Homo sapiens: one gene and its partner. The protein of the gene in region 1 interacts with the protein of each later gene in a biochemical or structural test. Each region holds a gene or a part of one and is shown in the gene's direction. Other genes may lie near its edges.

What was found. Proteins that work in one complex are often made in the same cells at the same time.
Region 2: the proteins of DLG4 (region 1) and PKP4 interact in a test that uses a peptide from one of them, tested with the Homo sapiens proteins (2 studies listed by IntAct, with this or other methods).

The regions. Positions count from the first base shown.
Region 1 is NC_000017.11:7,186,611-7,190,234, reverse strand, and holds the end of DLG4 (disks large homolog 4), read left to right. Parts: 3' UTR 1-3,048; downstream 3,049-3,624. UniProt on the Homo sapiens protein: Postsynaptic scaffolding protein that plays a critical role in synaptogenesis and synaptic plasticity by providing a platform for the postsynaptic clustering of crucial synaptic proteins.
Region 2 is NC_000002.12:158,624,398-158,628,050, forward strand, and holds part of PKP4 (plakophilin-4), read left to right. Parts: intron 1-480; coding exon 481-1,030; intron 1,031-3,653. UniProt on the Homo sapiens protein: Plays a role as a regulator of Rho activity during cytokinesis. May play a role in junctional plaques.

The DNA.
Region 1 (3,624 bases):
ATTTATTTTTTCCACTTTTTTTCTTCTCAAAGGTGGTTTTTTGGGGGGAGAAGCAGGGGACTCCGCAGCGGGCCCCTGCCTTCCACATGCCCCCACCATTTTTCTTTGCCGGTTTGCATGAGTGGAAGGTCTAAATGTGGCTTTTTTTTTTTTTTTTCCTGGGAATTTTTTTGGGGAAAAGGGAGGGATGGGTCTAGGGAGTGGGAAATGCGGGAGGGAGGGTGGGGGGCAGGGGTCGGGGGTCGGGTGTCCGGGAGCCAGGGAAGACTGGAAATGCTGCCGCCTTCTGCAATTTATTTATTTTTTTCTTTTGAGAGAGTGAAAGGAAGAGACAGATACTTGAAACTTGGTGTGTGGCCTGGTTATTTGGGACCTGGGTGTGGAGGGAGATGGGCGCAGCAGAGTCAGATCCTTCTTCACTCCAAGCCAGAGAGGTTAGTGGCCTGGAAAATGGGCCAGGGAGGTAACTGGCAAATCAAGGAACCCGAGTTGGTGAAGACTGAGCCTGGGAAGGTCTGGAGCTCTGTCCAAAGTCATGACAGGCCAGAAAGGGGAGGCTGGAACTTGTCTGGGGCCCTGCAGACTTAGTCCAGCTCTGATCCCTGCCGGGCTGTCTCAGTCCTGTTGGGAAGCACAACAGTCCTTAAAGGAAAATAGAGAGGAAACTTCGTTCATTCATGTTCATGGAGTTGTGGACAGAGCTAGGATCTGGAAATGATTTTTTTTGTTTTTTTGTTTTTTTTTTTGAGACAGAGTCTTGCTCTGTCGCACAGGCTGGAGTGCAGTGGCTCGATCTCGGCTCACTGTGATCTCTGCCACCCTGGTTCAAGTGATTCTCCTGCCTCAGCCCCCTGAGTAGCTGGGATTACAGATTACTGCCACCATGCCTGGCTAATTTTGTATTTTTAGTAGAGATGGGGTTTCACCATGTTGGTCAGGCTGGTCTTGAACTCCTGACCTTGTTATCCACCCGCCTCAGCCTCCCAAAGTGCTGGGATTACAGGCGTGAGCCACCGCGCCTGGCCTGGAAATGATCTTTACAGAGTTCTGCTGATAAGAACTGCTGTGTGAATATACGCTAGGTTTCTTTATGCGCCCCCCCCACCCTTTTTTTTTTTTTTTTGAGACAGAGTTTCGCTCTTTCGCTCAGGCTGGAGTGCTGTGGTGCGATCTTGGCTCACTGCAACCTCTGCCTGCTGGGTTCACACGGTTCTCCTGCCTCAGCCTCTCGAATAGCTGGGATTACAGGCGCCTGCCACCACTCCTGGCTAATTTTTGTATTTTTAGTAGAGATGGGGTTTTGCTTTGTTGGCCAGGCTGGTCTCGAACTCCTGACCTCAGGTGATCCGCCCAGCTTGGCCTCCCACAGTGTTAAGATTACAGGCATGAGCCACTACGCCCAGCCTTTATGTCCTATCTCTATGGGAAAGATCTGAGGCAGCTTTGTAAATAATGAGGGTAGGAAAATAAGAATCTAAATGCCAAAGATGAAAACTGGAGAAATGTATATGAACTGTGAGGGTAAATGTGATCTCTGAGCTTCCTGATAGCCATGGCAAAAAAGGAAATTGTCAATTACCTACTTCTTTATTATAAGGGAGAAATAATTTTAGTTCTTTTAGGGAGTCATATTTTCCTGGCCCTAAGTCCTAACTGAAGCTCCTGAGATCCTGCTATGTAGAATGGTGACTCTCAGCCTTCTGCCTTCTTCATGTGTTTGGCACAGATGAACCTTTGGGGGCACCTGCTGGGGTACTATTCCTTTCTCTGATTCTCAGGTGCTCCAGTGGGTAAGGCTGAGGCAGAGGGCCCTAAGAGTTATGGTGGTTAAATCCCAAACAGTGCAAAAGGGCATTTTTTGTAGCCACTCCTGACTAAAGTTGAGAGTTTCATGCAAAAGACCAACCCAGGGGTAGTGATTCTGTGGATGGCATGGCCGTCCAAGCCTAAAGTAGTCCAAGAATAGAGGCAGAGATTGCTGAAGGGGTGTCACTTCAACCAGTAGCCACGTATTGCCCTGCAGGATTTTCTATGCAGGACCGAGTCCATCAGGATCCTGGGGATAGGGACCAGGGGTCTGCATTTCTGGAAAGCTCCCGGGTGATTTTGATGTCTCACTGGGTGGAGAAGCACTGCTTCAGAGGATTTTTTTTTTTTTTTTTTTGAGGTCGAGTTTCACTTTTGTTGCCCAAGCTGGAGTGCAATGGCGCGATCTCGGCTCACTGCAACCTCCAACTCCAGGGTTCAAGTGATTCTCCTGCCTCAGCTTCCCAAGTAGCTGGGATTACAGATGCGTGCCATAACACACAGCTATTTTTTAATATTTTTAGTAGAAACGGGGTTTCACCATGTTAGCCAAGCTGGTCTCAAACTCTTGACCTCAGGTGATCTGCCCGCCTTGGCCTCCCAAAGTGCTGGGATTACAGGCGTGAGCCACTGCACCTGGCCCTGATGTTTTTCAAATAATCCTTCTCTTAGCTTGGTTCTGTGTAATAGCAGATGGCTTGAGGCTGTGATAACGTTCTCTATCGTGAGCTGAAGGGAGAAATCTAGGAGCTGAGGAAGGTGTGTGCAGGTAATGCGTCTGCGTGTTAAACTAGAAGGGGCAGAATCACATATTTGACCTGGATGGGGTAGAATCACATAATTTTGCATGTATTATTATTATTATTATTATTATTATTATTGGAGACAGAGTTTCGCTCTTGTTGCCCAGGCTGGAGTGCAGTGGTGCGATCTCTGCTCACTGCAACCTCTGCCTTCCGGATTCAAGCTATTCTCCTGCCTCAGCCTCCCGAGTAGCTGGGATTACAGGTGCATGCCACCACGCCCAGCTAATTTTTTGTATTTAGTAGAGATGGGGATTTCACCATATTGATCAGGCTGGTCTCGAACTCCTGACCTCGGGTGATCCACCCCCCCCCCCCTCGGCCTCCCAAAGTGCTAGGATTACAGGCATGAGCCACCGCGCCTGGCCTGCATGCATTATTTTGTAAATTATAATCAGTACACGTACCTGACAACAATTCAAATAAATATAGAAATACATACTGTTTTTAAAAAGTTTCCTTCCTGTTTCCCTCCAGGCATTATTCCTCAGGGGAAGCACGGTTGCCGCTGGGGCTGTATTCTTCCAAGGCCATGGCCTGGCCGCTTGAGAAGGCAATGTAATTAATGCATTGGAGCCCTGGGCTCCCAAACAACATAGGTTCAAATCCTGGTTCCTCTTCTCCCCACACTTTTTACTTCTTTCAGTAAATACTTCCTTGGATGTTCCTTGGAACCAGGCAGTGTTCTAGATGCTGGGAAGGCAACATCCCTGTCCTTAGGGAACTTTGGGTGCATCCAGTGGAGATGACAGACTATAGGGAGTAAGTGAACACAGAGTGTTTAGACAATGATGGGTGCTACTATGAAAGAGAGTGATGGCCCTTGCTGGTTTAGACCGGGCGGTCAGGGAGGCCCCTTGCAGCATCATTTGGGTGGAGGCCTGAAGGACAACAAAGACTGGGGTGGTGAGAGTGTGCCAAGTAGGGAGACGAACAGTCTGGAAGGAATAAATTTGAAAGGTTGGAGGACAGAAGGAGGCCACTGGAGTGGAGTAGGGTGGGGGACAGAGAGAAA
Region 2 (3,653 bases), on another chromosome or scaffold:
TAGCTACATTTAGACTGATATATTCAAATTATATTCAAATTTTTGTTTTACATAAATGCATTGCCTTGGCCAAACTTTGCTTCATAGGGAATGAAGTAAGTACATTGTTCTGGTGCCCCTTCACGCTCATGAATTACATGTAACACTTAGAATAAAACATTTTATGTGCTGTGAAAAATGCATAGGCAATAGTTAAAAATGTAAAGATAAAAAAGGAGTATTAAATGTCTTCAGATCTCTTTTTACAGGTTAATTTTAGCATTTGGTTTAAACCACCAAAAAAAAAAAAAAAAACTAAAACAACTAAAGCACCGTGAGGAAAAATTAATGTCTGGCTCAAAGCATAAAAAGGAAAAGAATCTTAGATGCCTAAAATAGTGGATTCACATTCTGTAGTGAGCTATGTGTATTTCTTTTGTAATGGCAATGAACACAAAACCCTGGATAAACCCATTCTCTTTTTTCCCCCCCTTTCATCAGCCATCAGTAGCCAATCGGGCCATGAGAAGAGTTAGTTCAGTTCCATCTAGAGCACAGTCTCCTTCTTATGTTATCAGCACAGGCGTGTCTCCTTCAAGGGGGTCTCTGAGAACTTCTCTGGGTAGTGGATTTGGCTCTCCGTCAGTGACCGACCCCCGACCTCTGAACCCCAGTGCATATTCCTCCACCACATTACCTGCTGCACGGGCAGCCTCTCCGTACTCACAGAGACCCGCCTCCCCAACAGCTATACGGCGGATTGGGTCAGTCACCTCCCGGCAGACCTCCAATCCCAACGGACCAACCCCTCAATACCAAACCACCGCCAGAGTGGGGTCCCCACTGACCCTGACGGATGCACAGACTCGAGTAGCTTCCCCATCCCAAGGCCAGGTGGGGTCGTCGTCCCCCAAACGCTCAGGGATGACCGCCGTACCACAGCATCTGGGACCTTCACTGCAAAGGACTGTTCATGACATGGAGCAATTCGGACAGCAGCAGTATGACATTTATGAGAGGATGGTTCCACCCAGGCCAGACAGCCTGACAGGTGCGTACAAGGTGACAGTGCTACATAAAACCCAGTGAGGAAATCTTCTGTGTAACTTAAGTTGAAACAAAGAATGAAAAGGTGGAAAAGGCTCATTCGTGTTTTTAATCTCAGATTTTAAACTATAAACTTAAGGTTAACTTGTCTTTCAGGTTCTGTAATTCTTAATACATGAAATTATATACATTTATATCAATAGAATCCTTTTGCAATGGATATAACTCTTTTGTAATATTTTCCCACTAAATATTAGGGTTTAAAATGTGCTTTTTTTGCATTTCATAAGTATTAGTTGCAATTCTAAGCAGTTGACTAATTTTTTTTAATGAAATATTTTTTACCAGCCAGGCCTACCCCTAAACATACCCTAAAGTTATGTTAAAAGGTGGTATCAGAATATCTGTTTAAATGTTTAAATTTTTTCTTTAGAAATGCTTTGGTAATATAGACTAGACTATGAATTTTATCCCCTACTTGATTTTGGCATTTTAACGGTAAATGCACAAAGCGCTTATGAATCACTTTTACATGCCACTCCTATTAAAGCAGAAAGACACCGGGTCCCTAATACAGCTGTTCCAACTTCAGGGTTTTTCGTGGAGGGTTTCCTACATGGTGTAAAGATTTGGTTATTTTAAATAAAATGCAATTTAACTTTAGTGTTTTAAATTATATTTTAAAAGTAACATATACAGAATGGTAAAAATTAAAACTATATGGGAAAATATTGAAATAAGTGAAAGCCTTTTACCCTCACCCAGTCCCATCACAGTTGATGTGGCTTTCAGAATGTTTCTTTGCATTTACAAATATATGCAATCCATGCAAATCTGCACACACATTGTGTTTTCTATTGATGGAATTCTATCATATAGATCTTCTATACTTTGTTCTTTTCACTAACTATGTCTTAAGAGCTCTACCTCATTCTTAATAGATGCATGGGACCCATTTTTTATAGATATATCATAATTTATTTGCATTTTCCTCCTAATGGACAGTTAGGTTGTTTGTTATGTTTAGCTGTTAGAGATGATGTAGTACATACATTGTTCTCCCTGCATATTTCACATAAGTACTAGGGTAACTGGGATCCAGTAGAATTGCTGCATCAAAATATATGTGTATTTTTACTTTGAGAGATATTACGTAGAATTGCCTTCTAAGAAGGTTACACACGGATTTATATTTCTGCCAGTAGTTTGAGTGCCTGTTTGTCTATACCTTGTCTACACTGCACTAGTGCTGCATATTCCAAGTTTTTCATCTTTGCCAATCTGATAGGTAAAAAGCTGTACCTCATTGTTTTTAAGGGCTTTTATTGAGTTATGACTGAGGTTGAAGATTTAATCTGTTCATCAACGACTTTATTTCATTTTGTGAAACTACAAGTTCTTTTGTCTATTTTTATAATTCGTGAAAGCTTTTTTTTACTAGAGATAAGCTAGCACCTCGTAATATGCTTCTCAAGTATTTTTTCCATTTTGTCACTTCTTTTTATTTCATTTTGGTTTTAATTTACAAAACTGTTTAACATTCTTACATAGTAAAATTAGTATCTTTTTTATGTCTTCTAAGAAAATTTAAGCCTTTTTGAGATTTTTGTGATTGAATAATTTTGCCTGGAGAATTTATATTGAACTTGATTTTTGAGCTCAAAGAAATTCTTAGTGGAGAAACCACCTCTTTTTCATTCATCTATCCAAGAAGTGTGCTTGACTTAGATATTTTCTGAAATGCCTCTGAAAAGTATGCAGCAAAATGATGTAGGAATCATTTATGAAATTCTACCTCCCAAGGAAATCTTAGAAAATAAATAGTTCTGAGGACTTCCATATTCCCCCGTGTGTATAGAACAGCTATGTAGAAATCTCTGCTTGTAAGAGAGTAGAGAGGAGACTGGAGGAAGGAAGCCAGCATATAAATTATTGTCTCCATATTTAACCCTAAGAGGACTCATTTCCTCTGGTTTAAACAGTCTGTTTCTCTGACAATGCAGGTAAAATTAGACTTTATGTCTTGGGGGGAAAATATATATAATGTCTATTTTTTAGGCCCAGCCTCTCAGTGATTTTTTTCTAGAAATACTGCAGTGTTCTCAAGAAGCAAAGTGTTCTTGATTTCAAAGGACTAATAGCCTGCTAATTGATAAGCAATGTTTTGTACTACATTCAGGGACTTGGGTATTTGATGATCATAATTTAAATGATACAAACTACAGAAATATATATATATATACTCTAAAATGTTCATTTCAGAATAATCATGGCATGTAAAGAAAACTTTTGAGGAGATAAAGAATTGATCTTTGAAAGATAAATTTATGTTTATTTCTAATGCCATAAATATAAATATTTTTAATCACATGGAATCACCGTAATAATAGCTAAACTAATATGTTTGTGGAATTGCAAATAGAAAGTATTGGTTGGATAAATAATGCAGTGGCGTATCAGTGTTTTCCATTATTTGGAAGGGGAAGTAATGTTATTAAAAATTAATCAGTGGAAATGCTTCTGAAAAAATTATTTTTTATTTATTTTTATTTATTTTTATTTTTTTATTTTTTTTTGAGACGGAGTTTCGCTCTGTCACCAGGCTGGAGTACAGTGGCACGCTCTCG